2 separate regions of the Homo sapiens genome follow, and region 1 is linked to region 2. Evidence: fine-mapped expression QTL. A gene starts in region 2. The other region holds a variant in brackets. All regions are shown on one strand. Distances are from middle to middle. Region 1 holds the start of LINC00545 (long intergenic non-protein coding RNA 545). Region 2 holds the start of MEDAG (mesenteric estrogen dependent adipogenesis).

Evidence for each region. PIP is the estimated chance that this variant, and not a neighbour inherited with it, causes the effect.
Region 1: its variant is fine-mapped to the expression of MEDAG in subcutaneous fat (FUSION, PIP 0.95).

What each region holds. Positions count from the first base shown.
Region 1 is chr13:30,876,694-30,885,027 of GRCh38, reverse strand. LINC00545 (long intergenic non-protein coding RNA 545) reads right to left here and starts at 2,466. Exons shown (of 2, transcript NR_103813.1): 1 at 2,369-2,466; 2 at 1,633-1,934. TEX26-AS1 (TEX26 antisense RNA 1) reads left to right here. Exons shown (of 4, transcript NR_038287.1): 3 at 968-1,090; 4 at 1,693-2,193. The variant T/C (reference allele first, on the strand shown) is at 4,644.
Region 2 is chr13:30,901,716-30,910,049 of GRCh38, reverse strand. It overlaps MEDAG (mesenteric estrogen dependent adipogenesis), which reads right to left and starts at 3,779. Exons shown (of 5, transcript NM_032849.4): 1 at 3,257-3,779. The coding sequence starts at 3,534. The region is part of intron 2 of TEX26-AS1 (TEX26 antisense RNA 1); the gene reads left to right. RefSeq lists an enhancer at 2,677-3,178.

The DNA of each region.
Region 1 (8,334 bases), 25 kb after region 2:
TTAATGAAAAGCAGCCGCCAAATCATTTTCTTTTCTAACAAAGGGTGGCCAGTAAAATCAAGCTGCAGACATAGAAAGGCAGGCTAGAAGTTTGCACAGGTGAATGCTGGCAGTTGTGCCAATAGGAAAGGGGTTACCTGGGAAATAGGCATGTTCAAAATGGCAGTTTCATCTTCCCTTTTCCTTGCCAACCACATGTGCAGCAGGGGGCAGACAACATGGAGCTCGTCAGGCAAATAGCCCATTTGCATAAGATTAGGGTGGGGAAGCCAGCTTCCCTCAAGCTATGTAAACATCACACTAGGTCCAACCAATCTTTGGGCCCTATGTAAATCAGACACCGCCTCCTCAAGCCTTTCTATAAAACCCTGTGCACTCCACGACCAGCCGGAACTCCCACTCAGGTGCCCTTCTCTCTCTCGCAGAAGAGAGAGCTGTTTTCTTTTCTCTTTCTTTTGCCTATTAAACCTCTGCTCCTAAACCCACTTCCTGTGTGTCTGCATACTCGATATCCTTGGCATGAGATGGCGAACCTCAGGTGTTTACCCCAGAGAATGATGTTTCTTTGGAATTGCTGAAACATATGGTAATTCTATGTTTAATTTGTTGAGGCACCACCATATTGTTTTCCATAGTGGCTGCACCATTTTACATTCCTGCCCATTCCCAATGCATCCGGCTTCCAGTTTCTCAATATCCAACACTTGTTATTTTCTATTTTTTTTTTTCATTAGTAGCCTTCCTAATGAGTGTGAAGTGGTATCTCATTGTGATTTTGATTTGCATTTTCCTAATGATTGATTAGTGATGCTGAGCATCTTTTCATATGCTTATTGACCATTTGTATACATATTATCTTTGGACAAATGTCTATTCAAGTCCTTTGCCCATTTTTTATTTGGACTGACTTTGTTGTTGTTGAGTTGCAGGAGTTCTTATTTTTAAATATTTAATTTTTTTTTTTTAGAGACGGGGTCTCACTGTATCAGCTCAGCTGGAGTACAGTGGTGAGATCAGAGCTCACCGCAGCCTCCGGGCTCCTGGTCTCAAGCAATCCGGACCTCAGCCTCCCAAGTAGTGGGGACTACAGGTGTGCACTACCACATCCAGCTAATTATTTTTTTTCTTTTTGTAGAGATGGAGTCCTACTTTGTTTCCCAGGCTGGTCTTGAACTCCTTGCTTCAAGCAATCCTCCCATCTCTGCCTCCCAAAGTGTTGGAATTACAAGCATGAGCCACTGTGCTTGGCCAGGAGTTCTTTATATATTCTGGATATCAATCCCTTATCAGATATATGATTTGCAAATATTTTCTTTGATTCTCCTTGGGTTGCCCCTTCACTCTGTTGATTGTGTCCTTTGATACATTTGAAACCCTCCTGAGCCCTTCCCTCTGGTATCCTGCCCCTGCTCTCAGGCTGCTCTATCCTTTGCATGGGGTTCTTGGGTATCGGGGTACTCCTCCACCTTGTATCCTGCTGCCTCCCTGGGTGGGCTGCACCCACTGAGGGGTGAGGGAGTGGCAGGTGCTTCATTCCTCTGTGATTTCTGCCCCAGTCCTCTTCTAACAAACGCAAATCCTATTATGAGAATTTGCTAACACGTTTTAAAAATACGCAAATGTATTGGGAGCTTATTTCAGAGACAATTTTTATTTTAAAGAAAAAGTAACTTATATATTTTTAAAATCTAGAGAATGTACAACTCCTCTGCCACAACGTGAGGGAGAGAAGTCTGCAGACGGCTGACTGGTGACGACTGAACAAGACGGAAAGGCAAGTCGCTATGCCCGAAGCCTTTGAAGGGAGCCAGCAGGGTCCATGGGAGGTTCAGGACACATATCTGCAGCCCTGCTTCTGGCCCCACCCTTGGGGAAGCCTTTTGCAGGTGATCCTGGGCCTCTGCTGGGGAAGGCCCCAAGAGGTGAAGCATCCTCTGCAGAGGAGAGAGCACATCCGGAAGTAGAAGACAGACCACTGTCTGGGCTCCGTTTAACTGCTGTGATTTGGGATTGTAACTTACTCCCGTAAAGCCTCAGTTTCCCACATGGAAAATCAAATCGATCATTGTTATAACATTTCACTTTTTTGTTATGTGATGTAATTTACACAGTGCTTTCGTATACGTTATCCAATTTAGCGAAATAATACAGAGCAATGCATTTTGAAAAGAATAAAATGCTTAACATATGTGAGGAATTCTTTTTTCCTTTGAAAACTACTCCGGATGGCTTGGCTATTGTTTAGTTAAGAGAATTATACAATTTTTGAGACATGGTTCCTTATCTTGTGTAGGCTGAAAGGCAATTAAACAATTATTCATGTCAGAATCTGAGGTAAATAAAAGGCTGCTTCAAAGAGTCCACTTACGGAGTGAAAAGCAGTTGAGTAGAAACAGAGAGTGGTCTGTAATTTCCTTCTGGAAGGAATATCCACTCCATATGGCCTGAAGCAAGAATTTCAAACTCCTCTGTGGGGAGAAAGAGACAGAAATAAAAACTTTTAAGTTTTTTTACTCCGATTTGTCCCAGCCATTTTCTGAACAGCCTATGGAAGCCATCCGCTCCTCTAAACAAAAATAAGCTAAGAGACAGAAAGAATGATTTGATTTCCGTGTGTAGGGATGGTTCAGTCATAAATCAGTGTATTTTTTCCAAGAGGAAGGTGCCAGCAACAAAAGTTGGTCATAAAAAGGACATTAAACTTTAGTAGTCTCTTCACTGTTCCCTCCCACATCCAGTTGCCAACAGCAGAGACAACTGTGAGACACAGTGAAATGAAGTGACTGCTCCACTGCTGGGCAACAGGAGACCCGGATGCCAGGCTCCCTGGCAGAAGAAATAGAAAGTCAATAGCAAACACAGATGTCTTCCTCCCTACCACATCACCTCCACTTTTCACCATCGCCTGTGTGATACAACCACCCCGCAATGCCTTCCTCAGCCTTTTACTTCTGTTTCCAGTGAGTCAAGAAAAACTTCTCCAGCTTGCCCTGTGGAGATGAATGAGCCCATAATCCACTTACACGTGTGACCTTTACACAGCCAGGACCCCCATAGAGCAGCCAAACATGCAGTCTTGTAAACAAAAGGAATTTCAAGATAACTCTGATCTTTCACTAATTATCCCAAAGCCCAAAGGGGATCCATATACATAGTCCGAAGCCTACTTTAAGGAGGCATCCTCCCCTGTGTATTCCCAGCCCATCCCATAGTTTCCCACTCTGCAGCTCCAAACTCAACTTGTCCCATCACCAGCCCCCAGCCTCTCTTCTTTCCCTCTCCCCATGCCCCACTACCTCTATTTTTTATTATTGCAGATTGACCAAATGTCTATGAAGCTGCAGCAAGGTTTCTTCTTTTTTGGAGCAGGGAATGGGGAGTGATTGGGCTTGGCTGTGACAGATTGTTTTGGCAGGCTCAGTGGGCAGAGGCGGTGAACACCATCCCAGTAAGTAAAGGGACTGTAGGAGCGTAGAGTTCCCTTAGTTCCTGGCTGGAAACCCAGCTCCCTGCCTCCTCCCATCCATCAAGCTGGGAGCCATGACAGTGTCAGAGCCTGAGCTCCAGCCCAGACTTCTGGGTGAAGTGGTCCCATGGAGCAAAGCTTGGTTTGGAAGATTTGGAGAATGGGAAAGAATGTTCTCTTACCACAACCTCTTCCCCACTGCGGCCCCTTCCTAAGCTGCCATTGAAATCTATTTTTGCCAGAGCAAAAAATGGGGGAAGTGGACAGCTTCTGCCAACAGTGAGTTTGTTCCAAGCCCACCCCACAGTCATGGGTTCCTCAGAGTGTCACTGAATCACAGGACTCATGGAAATCTGCCCATGTCATGAAGATAAACCACTGTGATCACTTTTAAAATCTTTCTCATCATGTCCTTGGGAAGATAAAGGGGTGGAACTGAACAGAAAGGGGCAGAGGTGGGACTTTTTTTCACTAACCTTAACCTTCATGCCAAGAACAGAGATCTCTGTTTGAAAGCATGTCTCCGATGACCATTTATTTGCTCTGCCTGGTAAACCTTCGTGTAATGCGTGGCTTTAAGCATTAGTCATTCCCTGCTGGGAAGGAGGTTAGAACTCCAGAAACAAGGCTATTGCAGAACTGGACTGTGTGGGTCACTAAACCACAGGGGAAAGGGTGGAGAAGCAGCTGGTGTCCCGCTTAAAGGTCACAAAGCATTATTTCTACTTTAATACCCAGAGTTCAAGTGGAAATAAACTCAGAAGGTTAAGATCTAAGTGAAAATTAACTGAAGGCAACTGTGCCATTTGGACTCTGAGATGTGCTTGCCTGGGAAAGTGCAAAACACACTGGCTATCTTTCCATGAGCACAGCTGAACAGGAATAGGCATTAATAAGGATAAACATAAAGAAAAAATTGCTAATTATTGGCAGAGAATGCCAAGAAAAGTTGGTGGAATTCTCTTCTTTGGGGACCCTGGGAAAAGAACAGTAACAGTTAGGTACAGAGGCGCCTGGAAGCAAAGAAACTTCTTTCCCTGGGACAGTGGCTCTGTGCTGTGTGTAACCCTGAGTTCTTTAGGTCACTATAGTCTGGGTGAGTGACTCCAGGGTTGTAGGATGCAATAGCCATGCTAATGAAAACTCACTGGTTCTGAGCCCCCTTCCAGAAGTACTG[T/C]GGGTACTTTCAGCCTCTTTTCTCCCTGCAGAGTCTCAAAGAGCTCATGTTCTGTCCTTGGTGATTAATACAGATTTCTTGGCTCTTCCCAGCCTGCTAGTCAGTGAACTTAATTTGCCACTTCTGTTGCTAATCATAACTCTTGCCTCAGCATCAAGCTGATCATCCTTGCAGCTGTAGATATTGGCCCTCCTGCACTGGATGCTCGCAGAGAGGGGAAGGCAGTCTCCTAATCACCATTTCTAATAAAAAAACGAGAGGCTTGCATTCTCACTCTCTTGCTGAGCTTCTCCTGATGGAGCTAGCCATGAGGTTCCTGATGGCTGGAGGAAATATGAGGATATCTTCCCCAGAACACCCACCACACCTCTCTCAACAATCAACTCATGTTCCAGGACAGATGCTGTGAACAACAGCAAATGTAGAGCAGGTACTAGAAACTATGATCAGTGCTTTACATAGATGATCTCATTACATCTTTACTGTAAGCCCATGAGGTAGGTACTCTTATGGTCCCTATTCTACAGATGTGCAGAGAACCAGCACCTCAACTCTCTGATTTCAAGTTGAGAGGTTGGGGTTGGCCTGGTTGGCTCTTCAAGTCAAGAGGACATTTTATTCTGTCCCATCAAGTGACCTTTGGGTCACCAAGGCATTAGTTCTCAGTGGATATTGCTGGTGTGCCTGACGGAGGTGGCCATTAGGCCTCCCTCCATTACACATGCCGATAGCTCTTGGTTTTCTTTTATTTGCAATACAATTCAAAAATGTGAATAAAACCTCAAAAAATAGGGAAATGAAGTCTGAACAATAAAAATAGCTGAGATATTGAGTATTTAGTCTTGCCAGGCACTGTTTGCCAAGCACTGTTCTGTGAGGACAGTGCCTGGCAACATTAAATACTCAGTATCTTAGGAGGTAGGTACTATTATCATCCCCATTTTACAGGCCGCCAAGAGGTTAAGTGACTTGCACAAGATTGCACAGCTCTTAATTGGAGAAGCTGGCATTCAAATCCAGCAGTAGCATCGGCCTGTTCCTTGCCAAATACAACAAGGCTTTCTACCTTCTTGGATGTTTATTTCCTACCACACTTTTAAAAACAATTCACCAAACACGTAAGAAGTAGCTAAAACAAGGGGCTCACATTCAATGTGTAATGTAGAGGTGCAGCTTTGTGGTTGGTTCCTTCTTTCAGTTAAGTAATGAAAAATGATACAACACATAAAAATATAACAAAACCGAAAGAGGTGAGTGCCCTAAGGAGGATACAAATACAGCCCTGTGGAAGCTAAAGTGTTGGAAGAGATCCTGCTGAGTTAGGTCCCAAAGAATCACTAGGATCTCCACGAACAGAGATGGGAAACAGACAGTAGCACTGTAAGCAGGAAAAGAACTTCGTGGTGGAAAAGTGTCCTGGGGTCCAGAAATAGTGAGATACTGATATCTGATGGATCAAGTAGGAAGTCATGGATGATTCCAGGATGAAAAAAAATTCATAGATTCATCAGAACAATTAGCAGGTGAAATTTAGCAATATTTTCAACACACCTTCAAAAACACTTGGTAGTGGCACATGGGGCAGAAGAGTCCCATATATATGGATGTCCAGGTTTACACCAGATGTCCTGGCAACCCATCGGGTTAGCAACCCTAACCATTCTCAAGATCCTTGCATGGACAATAAATTATATGACCACCCTGTATCTGGCAAATTGAAAGATAGGGCCCAACACTTAGGTGTATTAACGGTGCTTAAGAAGTCATATTGTGGCCAGGCATGGTGGCTGACACCTGTAATCCCAACACTTTGGGAGGCTGAGGCAGGAGGAGCACCTGCGCCCAGGAATTCCAGAACAGTCTGGGCAACATGGAGAAACCCCATCTCTACAAAAACAAAAAACAAAACATAATTAGCTGGGTGTGGTGGCACACAACTGTAGTCCTAGCTACTCAGGAGACTGAAGTGGGAGGATTACTTCAGCCCAACAGGTTGAGGCTAGAGTGAGCCGTGATAGTGCCACTGCACTCCAGCCCAGGCAACAGAGTGAGAACCTGTCTCAAAACCAACAAACAAAAAACCAAAACAAACCCACAAATAAGTCATATTTTAAAAGCCTACATCTCAATGCCTAGCTAAGCTTTATAAAGAATGCGGGCTCTTTGACACTTGTTTACAATTGCAACCATAGTTGGTTTTGGAAGTGTCAGTTCTTCCCACAACCCTATTTGGTGTGAGCCGTTTTGCACAAGGTAACCCAACTAGTGTCTGCCACAGAGATATGCAGGAAAAGCCAGCCTTTGATGAACAAATAGTCCCCATCTATCTGGAGTTAATGTATAGTAAAGAAAAAACCTGGTTAAACACACACTGGCATAAACTGATAAAGCTAATTTTTATCCAAGCCCACTTTTGGATTTCAAACAACTGAAGTCAAAGAAGTTAATTAAAAACACATAGAGTTGTCAATGAGTTTAAAAATAAAACACAAATTTATTCGAAATAATGAGACTTAACTAACTCTGTGGTAGACTAGTTGGCTAGTCTTTTGCAGAAGAGCCAACCTATTTGTACCTGAGATAAAACATATTCAGAAAGAAGGAAAACTGCAAAGTGGTCCCAGAACAGAGAAAGCAACAAGGAGAAGGCTTAACTGTCCTTTCAACTTTGAGGTGCAATCTGTCTACAGGGCTCCCTTGGGGGAAGCACAAGCTCTTTCTTTTAGTCTGATTTTGTTGATTGATGCTGTGTTGTTGCTGGATTGTATTACTATGTGAAGTTGAAAGGCTTAATGTTAATGTGTCTTAAACTTCAAGACTTGGAATGCATGATCCCATTTAAACTTGACCGTTCTGGGCAATGTGTTTTGATTGGCTGGATGTCTAGCTTGTGCATTTCTGTCATTTCCTAATGTGTGTGGTATGCTTTGAGCACTGCAGACAGGAAACTCACTTTTTCTCTGGCTTTCTTCTGATTTTTCTGTTTCTTGATTATTGGAAAAATGAATAAACACATAAAAATAATAATAAAGTGTCACCCCAAAAGTCTTATCTTTAAAATAATGTGGAATGGCAATGCTAAAAATAAAGCAACTTGAACTAATTTCCACTATGAATAGGGAACAAAGAATCTGCACCTTCCCTGATTTTGGATTCCAGATTCCAAATATTTCATAAATAAAATATGGCCAGCCACATGAATTATAAGGTATATACCATGTGAGTTACATACACAGGGAGAGGTTGTTTTTAAAATTTCCTGCTGGCAAAGTCAGACTTATCCTTCTTTTTTTTTTTTTTTTTTTTGAGACAGAGTCTCACTCTGTCGCCCAGGCTGGAGGGCAGTGGCACAATCTCTGCTCACTGCAAGCTCCACCTCCCGGGCTCACGCCATTCTCCTGCCTCAGCCTCCCGAGTAGCTGGGACTACAGGTGCCCACCACTATACCCGGCTAATTTTTTGTATTTTTAGTAGAGACGGGGTTTCACCGTGTTAGCCAGGATGGTCTCCATCTCCTGACCTCGTGATCCACCCGCCTCGGCCTCCCAAAGTGCTGGGATTACAGGCGTGAGCCACCGCGCCCAGCCAGACTTATTCTCATTGCCACTATTAAACCTGTCAGATAAAACCATTCCAGGATGAAGTTGGAGATACGTCATAGTACATTTTAACCCATTTATGCCTGAGGTTG
Region 2 (8,334 bases):
AAAAATAAAGATCTTGCCATAAATCCTACAAAATAGGACAAATATTTTTAAAGTAGGTTTTTGAAGGAGCTTTAGAGCTGGTGGTCATCACTAAACCTTCCCACTATGCTGGATTTCTTTAGGTTACTTAGTAGGTATGTACTTAGAAAAAATGTTAAAGTATTAGAAAATGAACCTAAGTAGGGCTGCTAAAATCATCCTGTTGCTCTCTTAGCGAGTGAATAACCTGAAAGTCAAGGTCGGTGGCTCTTAGCCTTTCGGGGTTCCTTGGAAAAGGGCCTCATGAAAGCCACAGTACATACTTATGAGGTCCCAGAAAGAAATTCTAATTACACCAGGGGCTTATCCCATATGCCAAAAATATTTGTTGAGTTAAAAAGAACTAATTAATTAATAGAGCAAGGATTCTTAACCTGGGTCCAAGTATCTCATGAACATCCTGGATGGTCAGCAAAAATTGGGTATATATTTACATTTCTGGGGAATCTACGTAGAATTCTCAAAAGTTCTATGGTCCAAAATGATTAAGAACCATTTTGCCTTTTGGGATCCCTGGCCATCTTGGTGGCTGCTTTTGGTTAGAGGCCATCCCACATCCAAGGCCAGAATATGGTGGCCGCAAAGAAGACGAAAAGTCACTGGAGTCCATCCACTCTAGGCTCCAACCCATTAAGGGTCAAAAATACAAGCTGGGGCAATCCGGCTCTGAAGATGATAGACAAGGCAAAGTGAAACCGGTCATCCCCACCAACTGCCTGGCCTCGAGGAAATCTGAAATACAGAACTAAGGTGCATACTCTCAAAACTGCCATCTACCACTCCAGCAGTAATAACATTAAATTGGGCACAGCATGTGGAAAATACCATAGCAAGTGCACCCTGGTGTCACTGATCCAGGGAATGCTGAGATTTTTTTTTTTTTTTTTTTTTTTTGAGACAGGGTCTCACTGTGTTGCCTAGGCTGGAGTGCAGTGGCACCATCTCGGCTCACTGCAAGCTCCACCTCCAAGATTCAAGCCATCCACCTCCCACCTCGGCCTCCTGAGCAGCTGGGACCACAGGTGCATGTCACTATGCCCAGCTAATTTTTGTAGACAGGAGGTCTCACTATGTTGCCCAAGCTGGCCTCGAAGTCCTGGACTCAAGCAATCCGCCCACCTCAGCCTCCCAAAGTGCTGGGATTACAGGCATGAGGCACTGCACCCAGCCCTGAGATCTTTGGAAGCATGCCAGAACAGACTGGTGAAAATAAATCATGCAAATCTTTAATAAAACTGGCCAGAGCTTATTTTTCAAAAAGAAGGAAGGAAGGAAGGGAGGGAGGGAGGGAGAGAGGGAAGGAAGTGGGGAGGGAGGGAGGGGAGGGAGGGAGGTTTTATGCTATCTCTAAAGCCAAAAACAACTGGCAAATTTGGCAGCTCAGAGGAACGAAGCTTTAGATATCTGAGTTCTGGCTTCGGCATACCTCCCACCTCCTGATTCCCGAGGGCAGAACCTCTCACTGCTGCCCACAGTCCAGTCCTCCCCCTCTGCCTGGAAGGCTGTCTCCATTTAGACCACATTCCCTCCTGGCCATCCTTCAGGACTGCACACTCAGTTATAAAAGCCTCCTTCCCTGCCTGAGGACAATAGATAGCTCCTTCCATCACCCAAATTATTTTCAGAGGCTCCTTGCTATTTCCCAGGTACAAAAGAAGCCCTCACAGTATTGCTTATACAATGATAGCCTATTATTTGTTGTTTTGTATTTGCACCCTGGTCTGTGTTACCTGGTCACTGTGGCCCAGTTGTTTATTCTAGATTCAAAGCTGTCAGGGGAATCACTGTTGTTTAATTTTCTTTTGTGTAGGAGGTGTTCAAAGCAAAAGTTAGATGACAGACTTCAAAATCATTTCAGATTCTGCAGCACTGTTTGCTACAATTAGGAGAACTGGTTCTGTCAAAACCCTAACTTACGGCTTCGTTCATTCTGGACATTTTTATTTTTCATACCCTGCTCTCAAATACAATGGGTATCTTCTTTTTAAATCTGCACACATCTGACTCAGTTCCTCCCACAGTCCTCCGCTTATGGTTTGGAATTGGAATTTTCATTTCACTAAGAAAGGGAGAAATTCTTGCTGGGGAATGGTTCTTCAGGCATTCAGAGCCCTCACTATCTTTGGAAAAGCAAGGTTTTTTCTCCAAGAGTTTTGAAGACTGCACGTTCAATATCTCATTTTGTTTGCTTCCCTCTCTTGGCTCCCTCCTACCCACAGGGTGCCACAGCACGCTGTCTTTCCCAGTAGCAAAGGCGCTGTGTCTCAAAAGCTGGCTATCTTATTCATTTCTGAGTCAAACTCTAGACCATGCTTGCCTCTTCAGGCACTTGGCTCTCTCAGCACAAATATAACAGGTCTTTGCACTCCAGGCCCTTGCCAAGAGTGAACTCTGGAGGCCTGAGGCCATGTGGAATCAGGCCTGAAGTGCCCTCCTTTACCCTGTGGCACCAAAGCCTGCTTCAGATGGCTGGGCCACATCCTGCCGGTCTGCCAAGAAGAGCTTGGGGGCACTCTGGCCACAACAGTCAAGCATCCTGGGGGCCTCCTTCCCATTAAGGCCCTCAGGTTTCGCACTTATTTCCCCAGAACTTATCTGTGCCTTCCACAGCCCACATGGCCCCGGGCTGGACTTCCAGGGGCTTTGTTCCCTTCTCAGCTGCGGTTTATTTGTTTACTTTTGAAACACGAAGTGAGGCCAGAGATGGGAAACTTTGAGCTTTTGCATGCTTCTCCACTCGGTCTCCTCACTGGAGAGGGCTGGCAGTGCTCAGAATGGTGCATGCCCCCTGCTCCTCACCGCCACCCATGCTCCAAAGCCAGGATGTGAGTCTTGCAGAGCTGCAGACAGCCCCTAAAGGGTGTGCTCCCAATTTGAGCTCATCTGACCCAGTTAAGGAGCCAGAATGGGAGAAGCATCTGCCACTCATGAGCTCTGGCTGGGGGGCCCCTGCCCTCCCCCTCGCCCCCAGTCCTGATGCCCTTCTGGGCGGCTTCAAGCAGCAGCTGCAAAATGTCAGTGCAAGAGGCAGAAGAACCAGGGCGAGCGTGCAGGCTCCGGGTGATAGAAGCAGAAGGAAAGTCTAGAAGCGCACGGAGCAAGGGGCCACGCGGTGTCGCAGGCAGCGAGGACAGCCCAGGCTCCCAGAGACCGCAGCCGGGTGGAGGCGTCTGCGGGTACCAGGCGACGGGCCAGGGCGCACGGCGAGGCCACCCACCTCTTGATGTAGCTGCTGAGGCGGTAGAGCTGCCCGTCGAGGCGCACGAGGCCGTCACCGAAGACGTTGAAGCCCCCCCGCGCCGCCGCCGGCTCCCCGGGCCTGGCCACCACGAGCTGGTCGCCGCTCAGCTGGAAGGCACCGGGCTGCAGGCGCAGCAGCTGAGCCAGCGGCAGCAGGGCCAGCTCGCAGTCGCAGGTCCACAGGCTGCGAAGCTCCCCAGACGAGATGGAGGTCAGGCTCGGCCTGGCCACCGGCTCGCAGGCCGCCCCCGCCATGCCCGCGTCGTCGGTCCTCACACCGCCTGCTTCCGTCCGGTGCCTACAGCCCCCAGCCGGCACCTGATGGTCCCCAGGAGGGGCCGGGCGCCCTGCCTGCGTCAGCCGCGCGCGAGGTGAGGAGGGGGTCGGTCTGCCCGCCTGGCCGGGACGCGGTGGCCGCTCAGGTGCCAGTCTGACCGCCCGGGCGGCCCCTCCCAAGCTGCCACTCGCTGGGAGCCCTGCAGGCACCGCGCGGAGAAAGCGGCCCCGGCGCAGCGCGGCCCCTTTTATCCGCCCTCTGGACGCCCGCCTCGCCCCTGCCGGCCCACGGCCACGACCCCAGAGGCTCGGGGCAGAGTTATCATCGTCTCATAACTTGGCATGCTCGAGTCTGCTCGCAGGCAAGGCTTAGTCATCCCCCTGGGGTCCACTACTCAACACCAGCGCTGGCCCCCGCCCTGCCTGGCGGACACTGCCGGAGGCTGGAGGTGGGGAGAGTCCTCCCCGGGTTCCCAGGCCCTGCCTATGGTGGGCGGCAGGGCGCACAGCACCCATCCTTGCCTAAGACACCACACCCCTGGTGTTGATTGGAGAAGAAGGCAAGGGCTCTGGCCCTACCCATTCCACCTGGGACCCAGAGGCTGTCAAAGGCCAGTGCTGGAACTCCGATCCCCACCTCAGTACCAGACCTCTCACTCAGCCTCAGTTTTCTGCCATTTTAACTCCATCCAGATCGTACCCTGCATTTCCCTCCTTTCAGCCTTTCCTTCAGCTGGTTGCTGGCCCTGGATCCCTTCCCCCTAGAAATCCCACTGATCATCACATCGCTTTTCCATAAAGCCTTCACGAATCCCACGAGGGTTTCATCGCTTTGCTTCTCCTTTCTACTGCACGGTGAACCCTAGACTGCAATGTGCCGTGTAGTGGGGATAGCAGGGTCCTAGCATCCTCCCTTCTCCCCTGCCTCCCCAGTAGGTGGTGATCTCCTTGAGCCCCAGAATATGTTCATTTCTTCAGTCTATAAATATGTGAGTGCTAGCTATGGGCTCATTGATCTCCTGAGGTATGAAAGGAGAACTATATTATTCCATTTAATTAAACACCTATTTCTGCTGCGGAGAAGCCTGGATGGGATGGGAGGAGAATCTAGCCTAGTTTCGAGGCTTTCTGTAGTACTGTGTTTTAGGATTCTAAGCTACATCCCAAAAGTTGAGTAGAACGTAGAGAATATCCTTAGTTAGTCTTTGTGTGCCCCCACATGAACTCTTGTGTAGGTTTAATCAGATGGGATGAAGAGTCCTCCCGCCACATCTCATTTAAATCTCAGAATATAAATGAGCCCCACTCTCTTCTCTTCTTCTAGGTGCACACCTATCCTTTCTCCAGACATGGATCTTTTACCCATGGGATCATTACCCCATCTCTGGGCCTCTCTGAACAAATCTAATTCACTGAGCATGAATTGATCACTACCCACTCAACCTTTTGTGGCGCAGGAAGGATGCTCTACCTGTGAAAAAAGCATCCAGAAGATCTTCTTGCAAAGGGAGGTTTGAGGATCCCTGCAAAGAGAATGGGTCTGGGGTGGGCTGAGACTGTAGACAGGACTCAGAGGCTGGGGCTGTTTTCACAGGGGAGGGATTTGGTGCCAGCAGTTAAATCCATTGTGCCCTATTTAGAACTTCACTCTTGTCCCAAACATTGACAGAGTCATCACTATGCACCAGGGACCATCTTAAGCTCTGAGGTCACACACACACACACACAAGGATCCAATAAGTGCTACCATAGATGTATGGACTAAGCACTATGAGAAATAAGTGGTTCTGCCCCAAGAAGGGTGCTCAAAGGAGGTGACACATGGCTAGACTTCCAATACACAGGGGAGGCTCCCAGGGGAAGGAGCAGCAGCAATAAGGAGATGGGAGAGAAGATTCTGTACCATTCTATGCAAAGAGAGATGCTATGGTTCCATCTGGGGGAGGGGGGAAATTTTTAAACAGCTAGGGCAGACCATCCTATTTGGGATAAGAGGGGTCAGTTTTATATGAGATGAGACCAGAAAGGGCTGTTGGAGCCAGATTGTGACAGACCCTCTGAGTTGTCAGGAATTTGGATTCTTAAGACAATGAGGAGCCTTGGGATGTTTTAAAGAAAGGAAGTGATATAATTATGCCTCAGTTCAGATAGACACCTTTGGTTATGACCAAAGAAGATGTTTTGAAACAGGAAGATCAGAGGCAGAGAAACCAGTTAGGAGATTGATGTAATAATCCAGATAACATATGATGGGGGTCTGAACAGAAGCAGCTGTGGGAATGGAGATGAGGTTTCAACATTTTTGAGTCAGAGTCAGCAGGAAGGATCTTATGAGTAAATAAATGAAAAAGAGCAGAGAGACCCACTTAGTCTCTTGCTTGGGTACCCAGAGAGATGGTGACACCATTAACGAAGCTAGGGTTCACAGGAGGAAGAGTAGGAGTTTGAGGAGAGATAGTGATGAGTTCAGGGGGGACATACTGATTTTGAGCTACTTATGGAACATCAAGGTAGAAAAGTCCAGGAGGCAAGGAGTTAGTTGGGTCTGGCGTTTTGGAAAGACAAGGTCAATGATTGAGATTTGAAAGTCTCTAGATCAAAGACGGGGTTGAAGCCAAAGAAGTGGATGGGGGCATCTAGCTAATACATGATAGGGTAGGAATTTGAACCCAGGCCTTTAGTTTACTTCAACATATGTTAATTGAGCATCTGCTATGTTCAGTGCTTTGCTGGAGATACAGAGTTGAATAGAGGATGGCCCCTGTCCTCAAATAACAGGGAGAAATGCAGGAATCAGCATGAACTAGTCTTCTGGCACCATGTCCAAACATGTGGCTGAAATCTAGTTATATTTTGCCTGTGTCTCCAACCTGCTGGTGGAATACAACCTCAACAACAATAACAGCTGCAGAAGTTGCTTTCAATTAGTAAGTCAAGGAGGGCAGGTCCACTACAGAGCCCTCACCAGCCCCTACTCTCCCCATTCCACATAGATCGAACTCAACAACTCACCCTATGAGCTTCACATAGATCAAGCTCAACAACTCTTGATTGCCCTTAAACCTACACCACACTGTCTATGAATGATTTGGCTTTCTTGAAGGGTAAAATGTTACATCGGGGTTTTATATCAGAATTATATGCATTTGTTTAAGATAAACATACCAGTCCCTCCTATCAAAAAACCGTTTCCTGGGCAGGCACGGTGGCTCACACCTATAATTCCAGTATTCTGGGAGGCCAAGGCATGTGGATCGCCTGAGGTCAGGAGTTCCAGACCAGCCTGGCCAACATGGTGAAATCCCATCTCTACTAAAAATACAAAAATTAGCTGGGTATGGTGTTGAATGCCTGTAATCCTAGCTACTTGGGAGGCTGAGGCAGGAGAATCGCTTGAACCTGGGAGGCAGAGGTTGCAATGAGCCAAGATCGTGCCATTGCACTCCAGCCTGGGTGACAAGAGTCAAACTCCATCTCAAAAAAAAAAATCCGTTTCCTTCATAGTAAGATATCAACACTTAGATCTGAGTAGAAGAATTAAACGAAATTTTTCTTTACCTCACCACAGTTGTGTGATTTTACACTTTTCCTGTATTTTCCAAATAAATGTGTATTGTTTTATACAGAAAAATGATGTTGAGCATAATAAAAATATTTTAAAGATGCTTTCTTGGTATGTTGTCTAGAGGTTTCATTTGATGCGTTTTCAGCAAAACACCTGCATTTCTTTATGGGTAATTTATGCATTACCAAAATGCCAGAGAAAGATATGAAAAAGTGAACAGAAAAAAAATAGTATTCAATGTAATGTAAGCCATTGCTAATAAGTAGAGAGCTAGAGAGATCTTTTCATGTTTAATGTCTTTTTCATTACCCAAGTACCAGCCAGGCAAACAATCACTCCTGGTGACGACCTTTTCAGTCTTTTTTTGGTTTGCTTACATAGTTGTGTTCCTATCGTAGAATTTTTATTCGGCTTTGTGCATTTAACATTATATGTATATTATGTTGTGAAAATTTCATTTTCTTTGTGAATAGTATTTTAAATCACTATGCTATTTTCCATCAAGTGTATATTCTATTGTTTGTCTAGACATTTCTTTACTCTTGAACACTCAGATTGTTTCTTGTTTTTCCTTATAAACAATGCTGCAATAAACATCTTCATACTTTGATTTCGTTTTTCTGTATCCAAGCTCTCAGAGATGGAATTACTGGGACAAATGATATGAGAATGTGCATTGCTCTGGAAACGTGTGTCATTATTCTCCTAAAGGCTGGCACCAATTTGTCTTCTCACCAGCAGTGATTTTTCATGGTTTTAAATCTTTGCAGTTGGGGTAGGGTACCTCACAGCTATTTACGCTACAAGTGAGATTAACAGTTTAGCTATAATGTTACCACTCAAATTTAGAGACTTTATAGCAAGGCAATCACCCATTGGTGAGTCTGTGGCTATGCTCACAGGTAAAAGACAAGATAAAGATTTTGCCATCCTTATGTGTCCCCATTAAGGTAACTGTGCTATGGGGACATCAGCAGCTCACAGGCTCAGTTTCTCAGCTTTGGGGGTCCAAAGTTCATATTCAGAAATTTGATTCAACCTTACCAAATTCACAAAAGATTAAAAATCAATTAGGCACCACCACTGCCACCATTTTTGGATTTTTCTGTCAGCATACAAACATCTACAGGTTTCTTTTGTCTTAAAAAAAATAACTTTTTAAACATTTTAACATCTCACTTTCCCTTTTAGTACATTTCCATCTCTCTTCTTCA